Linked DNA regions of Homo sapiens. The protein of the gene in region 1 interacts with the protein of each later gene in a biochemical or structural test. Each region holds a gene or a part of one and is shown on either strand. Other genes may lie near its edges.

What was found.
Region 2: the proteins of NELFB (region 1) and KHDRBS3 form a complex in vitro, tested with the Homo sapiens proteins (one study listed by BioGRID).
Region 3: the proteins of NELFB (region 1) and DENR form a complex in vitro, tested with the Homo sapiens proteins (one study listed by BioGRID).

The regions. Positions count from the first base shown.
Region 1 is NC_000009.12:137,264,968-137,272,839, reverse strand, and holds part of NELFB (negative elongation factor B), read right to left. Parts: intron 6,964-7,872; coding exon 6,861-6,963; intron 6,510-6,860; coding exon 6,414-6,509; intron 5,897-6,413; coding exon 5,754-5,896; intron 5,601-5,753; coding exon 5,494-5,600; intron 760-5,493; coding exon 618-759; intron 334-617; coding exon 225-333; intron 59-224; coding exon 1-58. UniProt on the Homo sapiens protein: Essential component of the NELF complex, a complex that negatively regulates the elongation of transcription by RNA polymerase II.
Region 2 is NC_000008.11:135,543,751-135,551,622, reverse strand, and holds part of KHDRBS3 (KH domain-containing, RNA-binding, signal transduction-associated protein 3), read right to left. Parts: intron 2,870-7,872; coding exon 2,723-2,869; intron 1-2,722. UniProt on the Homo sapiens protein: RNA-binding protein that plays a role in the regulation of alternative splicing and influences mRNA splice site selection and exon inclusion. Binds preferentially to the 5'-[AU]UAAA-3' motif in vitro.
Region 3 is NC_000012.12:122,755,119-122,762,990, forward strand, and holds part of DENR (density-regulated protein), read left to right. Parts: intron 1-7,068; coding exon 7,069-7,088; intron 7,089-7,726; coding exon 7,727-7,811; intron 7,812-7,872. UniProt on the Homo sapiens protein: Translation regulator forming a complex with MCTS1 to promote translation reinitiation.

The DNA.
Region 1 (7,872 bases):
CCAGCTGTTCCAGCTTCTCGCCGAGCTGGGAGTAAAGCTCCTTCACTGCCTCTCCGCTCTGCGGGGAACCACACCATGGGGCAGGCGAGGCGCATGGGCAGGCCCAGGGGGCACAGGGGTGGGTGCCCACCGACCACACACAAGCACCACAAGGGCAGCTTGGCAAGCACACACGGGCTGGTAGGGACCAGGTGCCTTCAGATGCAGCCCCCCCGGGCACCCACCTGGCCTGTAGGCTCCAGGGCCTTCTGCAACGCCTCCAGCTTAGACGGGGCCACCCTGGGGTGCAGGTGAATGAGGAGCCGCAGCGCGTGCCGGTGCACGTTCTCCTTCCTGGAAAAGGCCGTGCAGGGCTGGGGCAGGAGGCAGGCCCTGCTGTCTGCCCAGGCCCAGCCCAGATGCAGGTGGCCAAGGCCCCTGGAGACAGGACATGGCCAGCCTTTGGGACCCTCCCCAGCTGTGCCCAGGCACCCTGCAGGGCCACATGCGAGCCCTGGTGCCCAACAGACCCACCTGCGGACCCTCCGCCCCAGGCTGGGGACAGCAGCCACCTCTCAGGCTGCTACGGACAAGAGCTGAGAGGACAGAGCGGGCCGGATGGTACCCAGCAGGCCTACCTTGGAGAGGCGGTGAGGAAGAAGCCATCGAAGAGGCTGCTGCAGAAGTCCTCAAGGGCAAATTCGTCGGCCAGCAGCGCAAGGTTGCCCGTGAGCAGGTGGAGGAAGATGTCGCCAAAGGCCAAGTCGCCAAAGGTCTCCACTGCAGACACAGCAGGCATCAGCCCAGTGCCACTCACCCTGCCCACCCCAGAGGGCACCCTTGTCCTCAAAGACCTCAGAACCTACTTCTGGGGGTGCTCACATGAGAGTTCTCAGTTGTTCTGAGATGAGAAGCACAGGGTCTCAGCAGGTGAAGAGGGGGGTGGGAAGTGGACAGAGGCAGGCAGGGGGTGGGACCTGTGGCAGGGAAGCAGAGCTGCAGCCCAGGGACAGGAGGGTGGAGGGAGGGGGAGACAGCCCAGGGACAGGAGGAGGGTGGAGGGAGGGGGAGACAGCCCGGGGACAGGAGGAGGGTGGAGGAAGAAGGAGACAGAAAAACGAGGTGCTCCTCCAGTCCCAAAAGGCCTTGCCCAGCAGCCGAGCCCAGGAGAAACAAGCCTAACAAATACAGGGCCGGCGCCAGCTGCAGAGAGTTCTCCCTGACTGCCAGCTACACTGAACCACAGGAAAGAGAACGAAACTCTTCCACATTCTTTTCTGAAGCCAGACACCAAAACACAACAAAGACAGCATTCGTGCCCACAGACGCCTCACGTGCGACCACAGCACAGAAGCCACGGTGTTGGCAGACATTTGCCAAGAGCCAGCACAACGCCCCAAACGGGGCCCCTGCAGGGAGGGAGGGCGGCCGCCTGCAGACTGATGCCTGAAGGAGCTGTGGCCAGGCCACATGGAGGTGACGTGTGCGGACAGGTTGAGGATGGCCTTCCTAGTATCCCGGATGGGGCCTTTATGAGGACAACCCAGCTGGCGCCACCTGCGCCCAGAGTGACAGAAACATTTCCAGGAGACCCAGGCCCCCGAGGTGCCTGCCTGCCACATCTCACAGGGCCTTGGCCGGCCACATGGCCAGGTGGCCACGGGACACGTGGCAGGCACACAGTCCCGACCAGGGGATCCAGCAGCAAGGCCCCACTGGGCAAATGCCCTGATTCCTGCAACTCCGGGGAACCCAAGACTGCGAGACAGGAGAGGGGACAGCAGGCGCATCCCAACCCTGACGGGACCGTCCACACAGCAGGCAGGAGACACCTGGAGAAGCGCAGCCACTGTCAGGCAGTCAGTCGGCAGAGGAGCGGCAGTGAACCTGGCTCAGATGTGACAGTGGCCCGTGGTCCGTGGTCACTGGTTTTTATTTTTTTTGAGAAGAGTCTCACTCTGTTAGCCAGGCTGGAGTGCAGCGGTGCAATCTCAGCTCACTGCAACCTCCACCTCCCGGGTTCAAGCGATCCTTCTGCCTCAGCCTCCCTCAGCTGGGATTACACGCGTGCGCCACCGCGCCGGGCTAATTTTTCTATTTTTAGTAGAGATGGGGTTTCGCCACATTGGCCAGGCTGGTCTGGAACTCCTGACCTCAGGTGATCCGCCCGCCTCGGCCTCCCAAAGCGCTGGGATTACAAGGTGAGCCACCATGCCTGGCCAGTTTTTTAAAGGCATTTAAAGACAGTCTTATTTTTTATTTGTTTTTTTTGAGACGGAGTCTCGCTCTGTCACCCAGGCTGGAGTGCAGTGGTGCAATCTCGGCTCACTGCAACCTCTGCCTCCTGGGTTCAAGCGATTCTCCTGCCTCACCCTCCCGAGTAGCTGGGACTACAGGCATGCGTCACACACGCGGCTAATTTCTGTATTTTTAATAGAGATGGGATTCCACCATGTTGGCCAGGCTGGTCTGGAACTCCTGACCTCAGGTGATCCACCCGCCTTGGCCTCCCAAAGTGCTAGGATTACAGGCATGAGCCACCAAGCCCGGCTCCCCGCCCTTTTTTTTTTTTTTTTTTTTGAGACGGAGTCTGGCTTTGTCGCCCAGGCTGGAGGGCAGTGCCGTGATCTCGATTCACTGCAACCTCTGCCTCCCAGGTTCAAGCGATTCTCCTGTAAACGCATCCTTCTTTTGTAGAGATGCCTACGTCTGCAGCCTGCATGCTGTGATGTCTCAGATTTACACCCAGACATCGTGCTGAGGGACAGGCGGCCACACGCAGACCCCACGTGGACCCCGGGGAGGTTGGAGATGGTGCTGGGTCCTCACCGTACCATGCTCTTGACTTCGTATTCTTTCACAAATTCCCACCACAAAATGTTAAAAAATAAACAGGAGAGAATTCTAAAAATCAACATCCATTCTTACTAGAACCCGCTAAAAACTTAAGAACACGCGTGCTCTCCCCAAATGTGACTGAAAATGCACATCCCACCCCGTGGGGCAGCCACGTACTCCGAGAAGCTGCACTCCTGGTTCCCAGCCTGTTTCTAGCCACAATCAAATGAGAGAAAGAAACAGAAGCGCACGGAAGGCCTCCCAGGTGAGTCTGTCATTGTGCGAACTCCACAGTGACTGACACAAATCCAGAAGGTGCCACCCACTGCACACTGGGCTGGGCCATGGCCTCATGCCCCTGAGCTAGACACCTGCACAGCACATGGCTGTACTGAGTACTGAAGGCTGCTGGGACACAATGGCAACTGTGTATCTAAATAGAGAAAGTGGAGTAAAAATACAGTATTGTCAGCTTATGTGACCGCGTGGTCGTATATGTGGTCCACGGTAGACAGAATGTTATGTGACACGTGACTGTACTGCAGTGGGCAGGCCAAGGCAAATTAAAGTTATTTATAACTATGTTCCCGGAAGTCTCAAAAAATAAACAAACCGGCTCTGCCCGGCGGCCGGCAGCACGATGTCCCAATGCCCTCAAGAGCCTCCCTGAGCCTCCAGAAGGAGCGGCAGTGTTGGCACCCGCAGAAGCCCAGGAGGTCATGTCTGCCTGCGCTGTCTAATGCCACTGTCTGTGGTCATTCGTTCCAGCAACAACAGGAAACCCAGGCCCAGGCAACCCAAGCTCAGTGAGAGGATGGCTGGGGACAGGTTAATACCCACAGGTAACTTCCTCCACAAAGAAAGCTGGAAAACGCATGCACGCGCCATCCTCAAACACACCAGCCACCGAGAAACACAATAGGCACGTGCTGTGGTGTGGACGTGTCCCCAAGTTCACCATCGGAAACCTGATCCCCAACGCAACACTGCTGAGGTCGTGAGGGCTCCGTCCTCACCAAAGCGTTCTCGCTGTTAGCACAGGAGTGGCTCCTGATAAAAGGGTAAGTGTGGCCCCTTCTCTGTCTCCGTCTGTCTGTGTCTCATCTCTAGCTCTGTCTCTCATCTGTCTCTGTCCTGTGTCTCTCATCTGTCTGTCTCCATGTCTCTCCTGTCTCTGTCTCTCTTACCTGTCTCTCATCTCTCTGTGTCTCATCTCTGTCTCTGTGTCTCTCATCTTTGTCTCTCATCTTGGTCTGTGTGTCTCTGTCTCTCATCTCTGTCTGTGTCTGTCTGTCTCCCCTGCCCGTGCTCTCTTGCCCTCTGCCTTCCACCATGGGATGACACAGCAAAAAGCCCCAGCCAGATGCAGGCCCCTTGACCTCGGACTTCCCATCCCAGCCCGCAGAACTGGGAGAAGTCCCTGCTCTTTGTTTTTTTGAGACGGAGTCTCGCTCTGTCGCCTGGGCTGGAGTGCAATAGTGCAATCTCCACTCACTGCAACCTCCACCTCCCAGGTTCAAGGGATTCTCCTGCTTCAGCCTCCCAAGTAGCTGAGATTACAGGCACCCACCACCATGCCCAACCAATTTTTGTATTTTTTTAGTAGAGACAGGGTTTCACCATGTTGGCCAGACTGGTCTCGAACTCCTGACCTCGTGATCCGCCCGCCTCAGCCTCCCAAAGCACTGGGATTACAGGCCTGAGCCACCGTGCCCGGCCGTCCCTGCCCTTTCTACACTACTCAGTCTCAAGTCTCTGTTAGAGCAGCATAACGTGGACTAAGACAGCAAACCCCAGACAAGGCCTGAGTCAGCAAGGAAGAGCCCAGGGTCTGTGTCACAGTGGGTACCGCAAGGCTAAAGAGGCCCCATCTCCCATGGGACCCACAGCAGGCTAAAGAGGCCCCATCTCCCAGGGGACCTGCAGCTCTACTCTTGAAGGTGCCCATTTGGACCCTTCCTCTTCTTCCTGGCTTGCAACAACCCCTCCCCCGTCAAGGCCCCCAGGAGGAAGTGGGCCTGTCACCACCTGGGGTGGGGCACTGGGGCAGGGGATCTCTCTCCCTCCCCTTTGCTCCATTCTCTGAGCACCTGAGGGGTCCCAAGCCCCTCGCCAGTTAGGATGAAATAAAGACAGCTCTTACATCACCTTTTTGTGGGAAAGCACAAAGTTGAACTCCCTCTCCCTTTCCTAGTAAAATAAACTACAAACAAAAGTAAAAGTGAAAACGAGGCTGGGAGTGGTGGCTCACACCTGTCATCCCAACACTTTGGGAGGCCGAGGCGGGCGGATCATGAAGTCAGGAGTTCGAGACCAGCCCAACCAACATGGAGAAACCCCGTCTCTACTAAAAATACAAAAATTAGCCTGGCACGGTGGCACGCGCCTGTAATCCCAGCTACTCAGGAGGGTGAGGCACGAGAAATCACTTGAACCTAGGAGGCAGAGGCTGCAGTGAGCTGAGGTTGCACCACTGCACTCCAGCCTGGGCGACAGAGCAAGACTCCATCTCAAAAAAAAAAAAAAAAAAAAGGTGAAAACAAAGCTAGCAAAGTTGGAGGTGGGCTGGGGAGACAAGGCAGCTCCTGGGGGCCCTGGGGCCCGCACCCTGGGCAGGACTGCATACGGCAGCTGCCGCAGGGAAGACACAGCCAGGCACCGCCCGTCAGGACTTACCCAGCCCGGGCAGCAGGCGGAGGAGCGCGTTCTTGTTCCTCTGCTTGGTGATGTGCAGGACGTAGTACAGCCCCACCTCGCAGGCCATGCGCTGCTCCTGCAGAAACCTGCGCCCGGGGCGCCATCAGCCCCACCTCAGCCCCACCTCAGCCCCACCTCAGCCCCACACCGACCCCTGCCCAGCCCTGAGGCAGCCCCCTGGGCAACAGTGCCATCCCTGCGCCACGGCCACCCCTGCACCATGGCCCTACAGCCCGTACTTAGTGAAGCTTTCGGGAAGTGTGTTTGGATATGAGACTGGGGCTTTCTCCTCAGCCGGAAGTTTCTGATCCACATTGAAAGTGTAGTCATCCACCAGGAAGGACATGAGCATCGGGAGGAACCTGGTGATGAGCTCTACCTCCTACGAGGAGGGGAGGCCATGAGCGGGCGCGGGCCCGGGCCCTGCCCCACCCCACCCTGACGTGACACACACCCTGCCCCTGGCCCTCCCACTCCCCCAGATACCTCACCGACCCTCCCTCCTCTCCAGGTCCCCAGGTCCCTCTTCCCACCTCCCGAGTCCCCCACCCAGGCCATCTCCTCAAACCCCCTTCTAGGTCTGGACCCACATGGAGTAGTCACCACCTGTGGCCAGCCATGGTCCATGGAGACACCCCCAGAACAAGCCACGGTCCACGGAGACACCCCAGAACCAGCCACGGGCCATGGAGATACCCCAGAACCAGCCAGGGTCCACGGAGACACCCCAGAACCTCCCTGGTGGGCATTTTCCCAAAAGGAAGGTGGGCAGCTCCAGGAAGGAAGCTTTGGGACCAAAGGGGCCTCCACAATCACCTTGCTAGCGCCTCCCCCTCCACCCCACTTCCAGCCCACAACCCCTCGTAGGAAACTGGCAGCCCCCACAGGAGGCTCGTTACCATCTTGGGCTCCTTGAAGACCTGGCTGTCGATCATGTCCCAGGCTCCCTGGCCCAGCGCCAGCAGCCGGAGCAGCAGCAGGAGGTCGGGGCTGTCCTGTAGGGAGGACGGGCTCAGCGCCTCTCCCAGGCAGCTGTGTCCTGGCCATGGAGCTCCTCTGACCCTACTCGTTACTCAGCAGGATCTCTGGTGCCCATGGCCAGGACCACACGACTGCGATCACCAGCCCCACACACGGGGTGAAACGCAGTCTCACAGCGGGGAAGCACACGCCTCTACCTGGGCCACTGCAGTCCACATCCCCGACCACCAGAGCAGCCAGCAGGGCGGCCACAGGGCCCCAACAGCTGCCTCCACCTGGCCGCTGCTGTCCACACCCTGACCACCCAGAGCAGCCAGCGGAGTGGCCGCATGGCCCCGACAGCTGCTGGCCAAGCCCACACTCACCCTGGGCAGTGTCTCCTGGCCGACCAGCTCCTGCAGGTGCCTGACTGTGCTCAGTGCCAGCGTGTTGATGGCGAAGGGGTCACACAGGATCATGGACAGGTCCCTGGAAGGAGGCCGCCCTGGCATTAATGCGACGCCTGTTGCCCCTCCCTTCAGCGGCACAGTCCTCAGGAGGGGTGGCCTAGGCTGAATTCAGGACTGGCAGCGGGTGCCCATCACATGCTGGGTTTCTTACAAAAAGCTTAAGGATGGCCGAGCGCGGCGGCTCAGCCTGTCATCCCAGCACTTTGGCAGGCCGGGCGCGGCGGCTCAGCCTGTCATCCCAGCACTTTGGCAGGCCGAGGCGGATGGATCACCAGGTCAGGAGACTGAGACCAGCCTGGCTAACAAAGTGAAACCCTGTCTCTACCAAAAATACAAAAAATTAGCCGGGCGTGGTGGTGGTCGCCTGTGGTCCCAGCTACTCGGGAGGCTGAGGCAGGAGAATCACTTGAACCCGGGAGGCAGAGCTTGCAGTGAGCCAGGATCGCGTCACTGCACTCCAGCCTGGGCAAGAGAGCGAGACTCTGTCTCAAAAAAAAAAAAAAAAAAAGCTTAAGGTTTGCAATTTGTCCTTAACCTATTCAAAGATTTTTCAAATTAAAAAGTTAAAAAAACAAACAAAAAAAAGGCTGGGTGTGGTGGCTCACGCCTGTCATCCCAGCACTTTGGGATGCTGAGGCCGGTGGATTGTTTGTTTGAGACTAGCCCGGGCGAGGTGGTGAAATCCCATCTCTACTAAAGATAACAAAAATCGGCCAGGCGCACTGGTGTGTGCCTGTAATCCCAGCACTTTGGGAGGCGGAGACAGCAGGATCAATGCCCAGGAGGTTGAGGGAGACTGTACCACTGCACTAAAGCCTGGGTGACAGAGACCCTGTCTCAGAAAAAAAAAAAAAAAAAAAAAAAGGAAGAAAAAAAGTGGCAAAGGCAGGGCCAGGCAGCACTGTGTCTATACACCAGCCAGAGGATG
Region 2 (7,872 bases), on another chromosome or scaffold:
CTACATGCCATGACCAAGTGGGAATTATCCTCGGAATGCAAATGTGGCTTCACATCTGAAATCAACTAATGTAATACACTATTATTCACAAAATAAAGGAGAATAAAACCACACAATCATCTCAGGAGGAAAAAGATTTGCAAAATTCAATACCCATGTTTATACATTTATTCATGATAAAAACTCTCATCCTTTAGAAATATAAGAGAACTTCTTCAACATGACAAAGGGTAGCAATAAAAAAAACCTATAGCCAATGGTGAAAGACTGAATGCTTTCCCCTCCAATTTTAGAAACAACACTGCATTCACGGTTCTAGTCAGTGTCATAAGGAACGGAATGGAGTGGAATGGAATAGAATAGAATAACAACATTACATTAAAAAAATTAAAGGCATCCATATTGGAAAAGAACTAGTTAAGTTGTCTTTATTCACAGATGACATGCTCCTGTATTCCACTAATTAGGATTCCACTTAATCATTGTAGTGATTCTATTAAAAAAACACCACACTGGAACTAATAAACACGTTTGGCAAGATCACAAGATACAAAATCAATATACAAAACTCAATTGCATTTCTATACACTAGTAATCATCTGAAAATGAAATTTTAAAAATTGCACTCACAGTAGTATCAAAAAGTATACAATATTTACAAATCAATTTTGCAAAAGGAAAGGAAAAGGCTGACACCCTGAACACTATAAAACACTGTTGAGAAAAATTTTAAAATATCTTTTTTAAAAGTGAAGAAACATTTCATGTTCCTGGATTGGAAAACTCAAAATTGTTAAGATGAAAATTATCCCCAAACTGATCTATAGATTCAATATAATATCTATCAAATCCTAGCCAGCTTTTTTTTAATAGAAATTAAGAAGCTGATCCTAAAACACATATGAAAATGCTAAGAAGCCAGAAAAGCCAAAAAATGTTTGAAAAAGAACAAAGGTGGACAATTTACACAACCTAGATTTCCAGATTTACTTAAGGCTAAAGTAATTAAGAGCATGCTACTGGCATTAAGAGTAGGCATACAAATCAATGAAAAAGAATTTGAGAATGCAGAAATAAACCTTTACATTTATGTTTAGTCAATTTTCAACAATGGTACTAAGGTACTGAATGAGGAAATGATTGTCTTTTCAACATATGGTGCTAGGACAACTGATATCCATCTAGAAAAAAATAAATTTAGAGACTAACCTCAAATATACAAATTAACTCAAAATGTATTTTAAGTGAAAGAATACTGAAAAATTTTTAAAATAAAACAGTAGAAAATCCTGGTGACCTTCATTAGGCAAAGACTTTTTTGGCCAGTCCAGATTCTGTGTGAGGTAAATTAGAGTCTACCTCTGGGGAAGGATCGTAAGGGTCATGGGATAAATGGTGCTACTGCAGCCATCTTTGGAAAAGAGAATCTGTTTCACCTGGCTAGATCTGCACTGCCTGGTCCACACTGCATGATCACCAAAACTTACTCCTCTCCTTAGCTGTGGTCTCGCCATAGTTTCAATTTTGTAGTCATTTATATGAAAAACTGACTCATATCTGACTCTTTGCCATTAAACTCCATGAGGGATCATGTATTTTATTAGTTCACATCTGCCTACCACATAGTAAGCCCTTAGAAATTTTGTTTTTAAACTAAAAGAAGAAATAGATTGTCATATTTGCTCATGGGAACTAAAGAAAATACTAGCCATTTCAGTTCCCAGGTTATTACATACTTAATGCAATTCTATGTCCTGGCTTTTTAAAGGCAAAAGTGATTTAAATATCCTTTCCCTATAAATATAATAATTGTTTTCCTCACAGATAATATAATCACAGTACATGTGCTGTAGTATGTAAGTCAATCCACCAAACTAACCTGGGATAACCAAAGACAGTCTTATCCAGAGAACTACTTGGCAGATGTGTCAGCTTCTCTAAAATAAATTGTCTGCAGAGCCAAAGTGTTGATGCTTTACGATTCTTTTTATCAAGAGCATGCAAATGACATAATAAGTCCTTTTATCAAGAGCATACAAATCACACAAAAGACTTAAATCAACTTTCGTAACAGAGGTAGAGATGTATTCCCTTTAAATTGTCACATCCTTAGCAATGTGAAGGTGTCTGAAAGGGTTAAAACAGACAGTCAATTTTTAACAAAACATCCAAAATACTTGGCAGAAGCTAGCTAAATAGCCCATCCCCTCTGGGCTCATTATGGTTATGTCTGTTATATTTATCATGTTGTACTGAAATCATCTGTTGATGTTTCTCTTTTCCTCTAAATTACGTATTATATTATACTAAATGAGGGCAGGGACTGCTTTTATTCAAGTCTGCATGCCAACACCAAGCACTGTGCATGGCACACAGAGGCACTAATGGTTTTGTGTTGGAGAACAAAAAAGTTGTACAGTGTCACATAAAATCGTAGGAAAAGCGTTTCAAAACCTGAACTAGTGATTGTGCTATGCAAGTTTTTTAGCCATGTAACCTTGGCCATATTATTAAATCTTCCTGAAATTCTAACACCTCATATATACATAAGGAATAATGCCCAGTAATTTACAAGGACAATGTAAGGTCTACTTGAGGTGATGTCCATACAGCTTTACAGCAGAAAAGGAGCTATGCAAATAACAGTTACAGACAAGAAGTATCAAGGATTAAAGCAAAGACTTTAAAGTACAAGTTAACTATCAAGAAAAATGGTACTAACAGGGATGAGGAACTTTTTGATTTCTTCCAAAGCATGTCCCATCCTGGCATAAGCTTCTGCAGGTGGGGCAAACACTTCAATGAGAACATGGAGATCATCATTGAGATGGAAGTACTTCGCTTCTCCACTTTTCCTCAACTCTTCTTCCTGGAAAAAGGAAAAAAGAAATCACATTTAAAAACGTGTCATTATAAGAAATGAAAGATAAATAAATAAATAAATAAAAACTAACCCCCAAAATAAAAACAATCCATCTGGCAAGCGGTTGTCACAGTAGACACTACTCTAAAAAAGAAGGTTTAAGCTATAAATGTGATCCTGATATTCCCAGGCTTTTACACACACTCAAAGGCTTCCTACTGCTGCTGGAATAATGTCCCACTCCAGACGCTGACTTGTAGGAGCCCCATCATCTGCTCACTTCCGCTGCTAGGGTGTCTTCACCTTCTCCAGTCTCCTTTGCTCAACCCTCCGCAGCCACTGCCCACACTTCTTTTGTGCTTCTCAACCTGGCTGAGCTCACGTGCTCACTTCTACACTGGCTGTGTGCGTCTCTGTGATGCTGGTACAAGGCACTTATCACTATCTGAAATAACTTATTTTTAAAAACATGTCTATTTTCTATCTTCTCTTAGTAAAAAGTGATTACCATGGAGCAGACACTGTGACTGCTTTGCTTAGTGATGCATTTTCCATGTCTAGAGAAGTGCTTGGTATACAGATGTTCAACAAAGATTCGTTGAATGAATGATTAAACATTCATTCATTGCTATGTCAATTTGCTCGTTCGCATATTCATTCAAAAAACATTTCTACATACCAAGCACTATATTCTATCTGAGAATAAAACAGTGAATAAAACAAAATGAAAGACTTTATTACGTTATTTTACATAATTATGACAAAGTTTTTAATCTTTGTTTGTTTCCATAAGGAAATGCAGGACGAAAATTAGGAGGAGAAAAAAACAGATCGTTAAGGAACTACTGATTTTGCTCCACTGCCTTTTCCTAACTAACCTTCAATTTTAGGTCCTGATTTCAGAATCTGGGTCTTCCATTAGTCTCTGTTTCCAATGTTAGTATCAGACAGATTAAGATTAACAGGAATCTGAGGCTAATTTCCAAAAGATAAGAAATCTTTCTAGTCTCTCAAAAAGGCTATCCCATAACCAAGAGAACCCCAGGAATTCCTGGCAATACCACCTTTTAATTTCACAATTAAGCAAGAGGCCAATAATAAAATAAATGCTAGAGGCACATAGCCCTTGACTTCACCCTTGAAGGATTCAACTTCTGTTACTTGACTAATTTGAACTCTTACAAAGAAAAGAAAGACTAATACACAGAGCGGGAAATGGGCATGGGATTTAGTCACCTATAATTTCATCTCAGCTATGCCAGTCACTAGCCATGTGAGTTTAGACAGACTGTATGTAATCCAATACTTAATTTGCAAAATCTGTTTATTGGTAGCACATGTATATTAATGCAGAACTACTGAGAATACAAGGCACAGCTTTATATAAATGCTGGCGAAAGGAGACAGTGTATATACTACCTAGTACACTGCCTAACATATAATAGGCACCAATACATGCTAGCTTCCATCACATTAATAGAAGTAGGCCAGAAACTGAATGAAAGGAAAAAATATAAGGGAATATATGTAAATATAAGCTGCCATAATATTCTATAAATTTCCTTTGAAATTTGTTTTGACTATACAAAACATTATCTTACGCCAACTCTTCATTGTTCTAATCAGAACATTTCAACCATCTGATCTGAATCTCTCTCATTGCTCAAGTTTTAAAAATTGCATTCTATGTACAGCAATTCATCCCTGAAAGCACAAATTATTGAAACAAACACTTATCCTTTTCTAATAGAGTATCAAAATAATGATGTTAATGAAAGATTATAATTGTTCATTATTATTCAAGCATTATTATTTCTATCACAAACTTAAGCTGGACAGAGAGGATTTCTTATCATAGCTGTAGCCAGGGTACAATCCCACAGAGAGGGGAGTTATTACCAAACTACTCTACAGATTAATGATGACAGGCAATGTGTTATTTGGAGAAAAACACAGATGTTGAAATTCTGCATTAAACCCCTAATTCAACATTAACTGTATGACTTGGGCAGATTACATTACCCTCATCTTAAAGGGGTGATTTTTAAGTGGGGAAAATAATAGTACAGTACTTATCTCATAAGGCTGTTATAGTAATAAAGGAGTTAACAAACAAAACGTCTTTAGGATGAAGCCTTGCACATAATAAGCGCTCAGTAAATGATAAATATAGTAATGATAATTATTATATCACTATCATTTATTCTATTATTGTATAGTATAAATGATGCAGGCAAAACATCCAGCATGAAGTTTGGCACAAGCTGAAAGCTCAACAGACCGGAGCACTGTCATGATTATTATGCTATGTAACCAACTAATATACATCAATAATGACTCCCATAATTTCATAAATGTAGCAAATAAATGCAGAAAAATTATATTCACATTAGATTTTAATAGTGAACACTTTGAAAATCTAAATGGATGAGATTAAAATAATAAGTAATGGGAATCTCTTTAGAAATAAACATATTAACTGATAACTTCTGAAAACTAAAACTAGTAAAAAGGATCAACTGAAATCAATATTCAAGAATTCAGGCAGTGACTATCTGATTATAATACAGCAGATGGGATACTAGTAGTATCTTTTTTTTTTTTAATTTATTTATTTTTTTGGGAGACAGAGTCTTGCTCTTTCACCCAGGTTAGAGTGCAGTGGCTCAATCTCAGCTCACTGCAACCTCTGCCTCCCGGGTTCAAGCAATTCTCGTGTCTCAGCATCTGAGTAGCCAGGATTACAGACGTGCACCACCATGCCCGGCTAATTTTTATATTTTTAGTATAGATGGGGTTTCACCATGTTGGCCAGGCTGGTCTCGAACTCCTGACCTCAGGTGATCACCCCGCCTTGGCCTCCCAAAGTGCTGGGATTACAGGCATGAGCCACCATGACTGGCCAGTATCCATTTAAGTTGCAAACCTGTTACTTAAATGATCATCTGTGGTCACCCTCAGTAAAATGCTTTTGAAAGAATGACTGATGGATCATGTGACAGAGGCTACAGCGCAGTATGGGACAAAAATGGGGAGAGGAGTACAGGTGGACAAGAGATAGACAAAACTGGTGGAAAAGAGTTTAGAGAGAAAATGACAGACTGGGGCTTTACATTATCAGTTCAAGCCCAAAGAGCCAGAAGTAAGCTAGGGTGCACCGCTTGCAGCCACAGGTTGACAGGGCCAACAAACAGGTGCAGAGTTCAAGTCTGTGTGCGGCTGAATAACAATACAGATGCTCAGCCGTCTCTTATGTGAGACTCAGGACAGTGTCTGGATAACAGTGAAAACCTAAGAATAAATTAAACCTGAGAACACATTGACGTCTGGGAGGATTCAAATAACTTTGAGTACTCAAATACTGAAATGCCACAGAGCCTTCCACACGGCAAAAGCCTGCCTGGTGATGTTTTTCCCATGTTGCTTACACAGCCGAGGTAGTTCCTTGAAGGGAGATGACAATTCTCATGCTTCACTACTCCTCCTCCTTATCATCTCCTGGCCTACGATCAATCTCTGCTTAACCAAACATGCAGAGAATAAGAGAGCTATGTTAAACCCAGGGGAAAGGCTGCTTGCGTACAGTAACTATGATATTTCCTAGTGTGTGAGCTTCCTCCTAGTCCTCCCAAAACAATGAATCTCTCTAATAAACCCAGATAATATATTCAAATTCTCTGAATCTCAGATCCCAGCAAGGATCTCGGACATTTTACTAGAGTGACTTTACACCGAGCAGAGGAAACACTTAGACAGTTTGAGAATTAACAGAACTGATTCTGACCTAATGCCACTCCACTGAGGGCCACCAAGCAGAGTGGGGCTTATGGGATTAGAAGGTAAGGAGACTTCTGGTCTCAGTCCACTGACAGTGGGTTCAGTGGATTGTAAATCCACAATGTATGCTACTCCCCTCCCTGGTTCCTGAGTGCCTTGATGAAATATACACAATCAGCCACTTGCAGAATCACCATACTGATTTCCAAAGACATAGAAATGAAAGAACCAGTGAATGGGTGATCTGGAAAAGAGGGTCAATCATGTAAAATCAGGGTGTCCCATGCAAATGCAGAGCTGGCATTCAGCCAGGTAGTCAAGAGGACTCATTGCAGCAGATGCTAGAGCACCTTAATCCCCAGCAGTCTCCATGCAACTCAAGGTGCTCATCAGCAAAATGGCCACGGTGGCCAGGAGGGAAGTCATGCATTACTTCATAACACCGACTCCCCTCAAAAAGGATCACTGGCTATTGACATGCTGTGTGTCCAATATGCCAACAGCAGACAGCCTTGATATGACAATATCATCTGGAAGGCCCACCAAGCCCTGACACCAAGCTGATAATATTTAGGATCCCTTTCATTATATGGGTAGTCAGGCACTTGCTGTTAACTCGGGCATACAATCCAGATAAAGCTTTGCCTTCCTTGTTTCCCTTCTACCTGTAAAATTCTTGTGGATGCCCTGATAACTACCACTGTATGCTACAAAACACTGCTTCTGACCAAGCAGTGGTTCTGACCAACCCCCTTAACAACAAACTAAATAAGTGGGACAGTGGAATCCTGCTTGTGGGTTTCACTGCTCATATCGTGCAGCCCATTACCAGATGGCCTTATTAGAGCGTGAACTAAGATATCAGCAAGGGTAGAGTACTTTCCTGCAAAATACACATAATTTCTGACCAACTGGCCAAATATATGTTTTCATTTTCTCCTACTGCCAGAATAGATGAGTCAGAGAATTGAAGTCATAATTTAAGAGAGCAATGTTTAGTGAGTAATTAAAAAAACCAGGCCATGCACTGGAATCATTTCAAACACCTACTGAAATTCATTTTGAGTTTCTACCCTAAACAAGTAGAGGTATGGGAATCTACTTTTAAACAGTATCCCACACAAATCTGAAACATGTCATGTTTTCCAATGCTGTCGAAAATATACGGGTGCTGTTGTCAGAAAACCATGGTTTTATTAACTGTGTTAATCAAAAACAAAAAATTCTCAAAT
Region 3 (7,872 bases), on another chromosome or scaffold:
TAAGGGAGAAAGAGAGAAAAGCCAGAAAGATTCTTGGGGTGTACCTGGAACGAGGTGAACTGGGTAGATTTCACCACATAGAGAATTGCTTAGTTGGTGAGAAGTTTGGAAGCTTAGTGAAAATGTCAGTCTCTAGAAATCTTGTTTTATTTTTCTGTAATTATGAATTAAAACTAAGGGGCCGGGCGCAGTGGCTCACACTTGTAATCCCAGCACTTTGGGAGGCTGAGGCAGGCAGATCATGAGGTCAGGAGTTCAAGACCAGCCTGGCCAACATAGTGAAACCCCGTCTCTACTAAAAATACAAAAACTTAGCCAGGCCTGGTGGCAGGCACCTGTAATCCCAGCTACTTGGGAGGCTGAGGCAGGAGAATCACTTGAACCCGGGAGGCAGAGGTTGCAGTGAGCCGAGATCACGCCATTGCACTCCCACCCGGGCAACAGTGCGAGACCCCATCTCAAAAATAAAAAACAAAACTAAGGATGTGAGAAAAACTGATACATTTATTTTAACAAGATGCTCAGAATATAGATTCCTATTATATTTTTATATAATGATTACCTGTGAAACAACTCTTTAAATTTGGAAACCTATGTGAGTAAAGGATAAGATCTATTCCCTGTGACCTCAGAGGGTCAGTGAACTAGGACTAAAGTGGAAACTACTGAAAGGTGCCTTTCTACCTTGTCAACACTCTCCAGAACAGTACAGGCTTCCACTTAATGTAAAAACATTCTTATGCTTAATTGAAGAAACTAGTAGTGGAGATGGGATTAGACTGTACCTTTTAATTTCTAACATTACCATTTTGTAAAAGTAGTGGATTTTGTTAGCCAGCTTGGTAAGAAGGTATGATGACATTGTTAATAGAGTCCACATCATAATCAACAATTTACAAAGACTATAAACAATTTTTACCTAGTATCTCTGATGTATAAGGTCCTCGGCTAAGTTCTGTGGAGGCATATAAATTGGCAGAGGCCCTGTCTGTCTACATATAACTTAACAGGGAAGATGATGAATGCTGAAAGAAAGAGACAAGAAATAGGCCAGGCGCGGTGGCTCACACCTGTAATCCAAGCACTTTGGGAGGCCAAGGTGGGTGGATCAGCTGAGGTCAGGAGTTCAAGACCAGCCTGGCCAACATGGTGAAACCCTGTCTCTACTAAAAATACAAAAATTAGCTGGGCATAGTGGCAGGCGCCTGTAATCCCAGCTACTCGGGAGGCTGAGGCAGGAGAATCGCTTAAACCTGGGAGGCGGAGATTGCAGTGAGCCAAGATCGTGCCACTGCACTCAGCCTTTGAGAGCAAAACTCCATCCCAGAAAAAAAAGAAGAAAGAGACAAGAAATAAAGATTAAGGACTAATAGCTGCAGTGTCAGTACAGGAGGGGAGAGATTTGTAGGAAATTAGGGGAAGACTTCATAGAGGCAACCACAGCCAAATGGGGATTTGAAGGAAAGGTTGCATTCAGGCAGGCACAGAAGGGCTGAAGGTTGGACTTGCCAGGCAAAGGAGTGGAGGTAGGAAAGTATTTAATAGTGGGTAGTGTGGAGGGAGTTTCGAGTGTTACAGTTTGGTTGTATTGTGGAATTCATGAAGAGGGGCAGCCGGAAATTATGGCAACGTGGTTTGGGGCCAAGTTCTGGGGCACCTGATTTGTAGATAATTGTAAGTCATTGAAAGTTTTGGAGCAGTGAAGTTACATGAAGATGAATCTGGCAGCAAGATAACAATTGAGGGAGGCAGGCTTATTGGCCAGGCTATAATAAGACTTTAGACAAAATTAATGAGCATTTAAATGAGTGGCATAAGTGAGGAAGAGAGGTTGAAAAATAAATTATGGTAGGATGAACAGTATAAAGCAGTTAATCAGATTTGAGGACAAGGGAGATGGGAGAAATAAACTGGATGTAGTTTTGACAGACATTTAGTATTGCTGGAGTGCTTAGAGAAGAGGGAAAACCCTCCAATAGAATACCCAACTGATTAAAGAGAAAAATAGAAGCGATAGTGACATAGGCATTTTTCTTATCATTCCTTCCCCCTCCCTCCCTTTCCCCTTTTGCAAAAAGAAGGATGCAAATTAGAGAATTTGCTCTCAGCTAAAGTCTGGGGTTTCAGAGAGCAGCTCAAATTCATTTAGGAAACACGTTTTAAGCATCTGCTCTGTGGCAAGCATTGTGCTCCATATACAGAAATAAGACATAATTATCTCCTGGAAACTGAGCTTAACTGGGAAGACAAACATTTTAACAGGTGAGTTATAATGTACTAATTGTATACTAGAGGGGTGAGCAGACTGCAGTGAGAATAAAGAACCAACCAGTTCTACTTGGGAGAACTGAAAAAAGGGAAAGTTAAAGTATTGAGTGGATTTTATGTTTGTATATTTAATCTTCAAAATTGAAATATTACAGTTTTATTGATGATAAGCTTCTCAATTGTATAAGTGGTGGGGCCAGGATTAAAATCCAAGACAAGCCATTATAACATCAGCTTCAAGGAAACTTAGCAGAGTCTTGAAGGATGAATAGGTGTTTGCTGAAAAGAATGGCATGGATAGAAGTTCATTGTGGTTGGACCATGGGCTGGTAGGAGTTGAGTCTGGAGAAGTACGATAAGATGTTTGAAAAGTTCTTAATCTGGGAAGTGATGTGATTGGTTATATCTTTTTGGATAATAACTGTTTGGAAGGAAGGAGGAAGTGCCTGAAATGGGTTGAAACTGGCCACAGAAATCAAGTTTAGGAGACTTTATTTTTATTTTAATCTTTTCCACCCTCCTCCCCAAATTTAGAAGACTTTAAAGTATGAGATGATTGAGGCTTAGTGACACTGTGTGCAAAGTTAGTGATTTTGGTGACTGTTGACAGCGAAATTTGTAATTGAAAATATTGACTTTCAGGAAGCTGATTGTGGCTGTTCATTCTCTGTTATAGAAAGGCAGTTTTTGTTTGTTTGTTTTTCAGAAGGAGTCTCACTCTGTTGCCCAGACTGGAGTGTAATGGCGTGATCTCGGCTCACTGCAACCTCCGCCTCCAGGGTTCAAGTGATTCTCCTGGTTCAGCCTCCCGAGTAGCGGAGATTACAGGCGCCTGCCACCGTGCCTGGCTGATTTTTGTATTTTTAGTAGAGATGAGGTTTCACCATCTTGGCCAGGCTGGTCTTGAACTCCTGACCTTGTGATCCACCCGCCTCGGCCTCCCAAAGTGTTGGGATTACAGGCGTGAGCCACCAGACCCGGCCATTCTGATGTGTTCTTAAGACTAGATTTAGTTTATGATCTTGTGCCAAGACCACCACAGAAGTGCTGTTAATTTCAGTGCATTTTATCAAGAGGTACCTGGCTGTGGATTAGTCCCATTCCATGTTTCCATGTGGTGGTAACTTTGCTCATTTGGCCAGGCACAGTGGCTCACACCTTTAATTCCAACACTTTGGGAGGCCGAGGCAGGCAGATCATCTGAGCTCAGGAGTTTGAGACCAGCCTGGGCAACATAGTGAGACCCTGCCTCTACAAAAAATTAAATAAATTAGCCAGGTGTGGTGGCAAGTGCCTGTAGTTCCAGCTACTCGGAGGCTGTAGTGGAAGGAACACTTAAGCCCAGGAGTTCAAGGCTGCATGAGTTAAGATCACATCACTGCACTATAGCCTGGGTGACAAAGTGAGACTGTCTCTTTAACAAAAAAAAAGAAGCTGGAGTCTAGAGGCTTAATTTTTTATTTATTTATTTTTTTTTTGAGTTGGAGTCTTGCCCTGTTGCCCAGGCTGGAGTGCAGTGGCAGTCTCAGCTCACTGCAGCCTCTGCGTCCCAGGATCAAGCGATTCTCCTGCCTCAGCCTTCTGAGTAGCTGGGACTACAGGTGTGCGCCACCACACCCGGCTAATTTTTGTATTTTTAGTAGAGATGGGGTTTCACCATGTTGGCCAGGCTGGTCTTGAACTCCTGACCTCAGGTGATCCACCACCTCGGCCTCCCAAAGTGCTGGGATTGTAGACGTGAGCCACCACACCCGGCCTAGAGGCTTAATTAGATTCAAGTTAAACAGATTTTGGCAAGAAAGTTTCGTGGATGATGTTTCATTCATCATGTTGCATTGCATCAAGAGCTCATAATGTCAGATGTTTCACTATTAGTGATGCTAAGTTTGAAGGTGACGGCTAAATGTTTGCATTGAAAAGGTACAGTTTTCCCTTTCCAAATAAGTAAGTGATCTGTAAAGAGAAATTGACTTTTTTAAAGCAAATAATGGTGAACTTAAAGGAGCTCCCCCAATTTTTTTATTGCATTAGAATTTTGCTGAACCGGGCCAGGCACAGTGGCTCACACCTGTAATCACAGCACTTTGGGAGGCTGAGGCCAAGGCAGGCAGATCACTTGAGGCCAGGAGTTCAAGACCAGCCTGGCCAACATGGCAAAACCCTGTCTCTACTAAAAATACAAAAATTAGCTGGGTGTGGTGGTGCACACCTGTAATCCCAGCTACTCGGGAGGCTGAGCTACGAGAATCACTTGGACCCAGGAGGTAGAGGTTGCAGCCAGCTGAGATGGTGCCATTGCACTCCAGCCTGGGCAACAGAGCAAAACCCCAATTTTTTTTTTTTTCTGAACTAAATATTATTTGAAATAGTATACAAAATTTGTAGCTTTAGTATTTGCTGTGATGGTGTTTAACCAATAATTGTATAGTTATATCCTGAAAGTGTGGCTGAACAACTATGCCTAGTATTTGAACTTGAATTGTGAGGAATATAGGGCTGTAGCTAACCAGAGAGATCTTTGGTGGAAATAACCCTAAACTATAATAGACTAGACTGGACAAAACCAATGGATTCCAGTTTTCTTCTGCCACATACCACCTTTGTCATTGTATGAGCTGTTTAACTCTTTTAGTGCCCCATCTGTAAAATAGTGATTGTGTGGTAGCATGTTAGAATGTTAGTAGGGTGAGGTGAAGGCAGATCATTTTCAGCTGTCAGGTGCCACTAAGTTGCTTGTTTACTTTGTGTAACCTAAGTTAGTGGTTAATAGCATGAGCGTCAGAAACAGGCAGATTCAAATCCTGTTATCCAGATGCAAGTGGTTATGTACTCTAAGCCTCAGTTTCATCATCTGAATATAGATATGGTACTTATCTTACAAGGTTGTGATAACTAAACATAATAATGTATATAAGGCATAGCAAAACATTTGGCACATACTAGGTGCCCAGTGTGTAGTAATTGCTGTGACTACATGGTATACCACCTTCCTCTCCCTGAGAAATCTCAGGATATTGGACACACTGAACTACTCCATTCTAAACCTTAAACATAAAAACAAAAGGCCGGGCGCGGTGGCTCACTCCTGTAATCCCAGCACTTTGGGAGGCTGAGGCGGGCGGATCACAAGGTCAGGAGATCGAGACCATCCTAGCTAATACTGTGAAACCCCGTCTTTACTAAAAATACAAAAAATTAGCCGGGCGCGGTGGCGGGCACCTGTAGTCCCAGCTACTCTGGAGACTGAGGCAGGAGAATGGCGTGAACCCGGGAGGCGGAGCTTGCAGTGAGCCGAGATAGTGCTACTGCAGTCCGGCCTGGGTGAAAGAGCAAGACTCCGTCTCAAAAATAAATAAATAAAAACAAAATAAGCAGTTGACCCAGTATTAGAATTACGGTTAAAATTGGAAGCTTTTCCAGTTCTTCTAGTCCATTATTAGCCTGTACAGGCTCTAACACCAAATGACAGGATTGAACCAAGATTCCTTCTAGCTTTACACTTTCATGATCTTATGTAGCATAACATGAAAAAGCCTTGGCAACATAGCGAGATCCCGTCTCTACAAAAATAAAAAACTTACCTGTACATAGTGGCTCACGCTTATAGTCCCAGCTACTTGGGAGGCTGAAGCGGGAGGATTACTTGAGCTGAGGAGTTCGAGGCTGCAGTGAGCCATGGACACACCACTACACTCCAGCCTGAGTGACAGAGTGAGAGTGAGACCCTTACTCTAAAAAAAATAGGCCAGGTGCGGTGGCTCATGCCTGTAATCCCAGCACTTTGGGAGGCTGAGGCGGACGGATTACCTGAGGTCAGGAGTTTGAGACCAGTCTGGCCAACATGGTGAAACCCCGTCTCTACTAAAAATACAAAAATTAGCCGGGCGTGGTGGCACACGCCTGTAATCCCAGCTACTTGGGAGGCTGAGGCAGGAGAATTTCTTGAGCCCAGGAGACAGAAGTTGCAGTGAGCCGAGATCGTGCCTCTGCACTCCAGCCTGGCAGAAAGAGCAAGACTCTGTCTCAGAAAAAAAAAAAGGAAAAATATATTGCAAAAAGATGGTAGTAAAAATGCTGCTAAAGTTTATAAATGTGTCAGTATGAATAAAAAGTGGTGGCTGTTTTGGTAGAACCATCAAAAGAAATAACCAGGCTGGGAACAGTGCTTCACGCCTGTGATCCCAGCACTTTGGGAAGCTAAGATAGGTAGATCGCTTAAGCCCAGAAGTTTGAGACTAGCCTGGGCAACATGGTGAAACCTTGTCTCTACAAAAAATTAGCTGGGCATGGTGGTGTGCATCTGTAGTCCCATTTAGTTGGGAGACTGAGGTGGGAGGATCATTTGAGCCCCTGGAGGGGTGGAGGCTGCATTGAGCCATGATTGCACCACTGCACCCCAGCCTGGGCAACAGAGTGAGACCGTGTCTCAAAAGAAAAGAAATAACCAGTTTCCTTCAAACTCTGATGTATGGGAAATTGTTCGTGTCTTAGCTTAATTTTTTGACCCACTGAAATGGTTATGGTAAGACCTCATTATATACAAAATAGCATATTTTGATGTTCCATCAGCTGATGGAGACACTCTTTAGATGAAAAAGTCAAGATAGTATCATCTCAAATAACCATGTGCCTTTTACCCCAAAAACACTGAAGAGTAGCATTTGAAAAGTGGTATAGAAAACTTATAGGGAAAATGTAAAAATGAAGCATTTTCTCAAATATAAAAGTAAGGATAAGCCCTGTGTATGTGTGTACATATAGGTTTAACATTTCAAATCTTTTTTCTTTTTACTTCCTCAGTCTGTTCATTACCAACAGAGGTAAGTTCTTTAATTTTTTTTTTTACCTTATGTATTTGAAGTTATTCTTGGTTTTAAAGCTACCTTGAGAATTTTTTTTTATTTTTCATTTTTGATTATTTGATAGTAAAGCTTTAACCTTTTATAGAGAACTTTGATTTAGAGTAATTTTTTGGTCTTATATATTCTTTCCTAAATTTAGACCTTAAATCATACATGTGCATCTTTTGCACATGGCTGTGCAGTTTGGATTTTTGCATGGGACTTATGAATAGTCAGCTAATAAAATAAGAGTAACCTTAATGCCAAAATCTATACAAATGAGCAGAGGAAAGAAAGGGCAGTATAAATTATGTGTAAGACTTTCTAAGTCCAGCTCTATGAGCAAGTCATGAAAATGAGGCACTTATGTGCTCAAAGCAAGAAATAGAGGGAGAAGAAATAAATTGGTACTGTGAAGAGGTACCTAATCCTTCTTAATATCTAATTTTTTATGGGACATATCGTGGTTGAATACAGATTTCCTGTGGATAAGAAGTCAGATGGGAGTGGTTTGTTTTATTCTTTGTATTAACAAGTATAGGGGGTGATTTTTAATTACGACATATTGTTTGACTGAAAATGTTTTGTTGTGACTCAGTTCTTTTTTTTTCTCCTAGTACTGTGAATATATGCCTGATGTTGCTAAATGTAGACAATGGTTAGAGAAGAATTTTCCAAATGAATTTGCAAAACTTACTGTAGGTATGAACATTTTTTTTCTTGCATTAAACTTCTGTACCTGAGACAAATGCATGTATGGCAT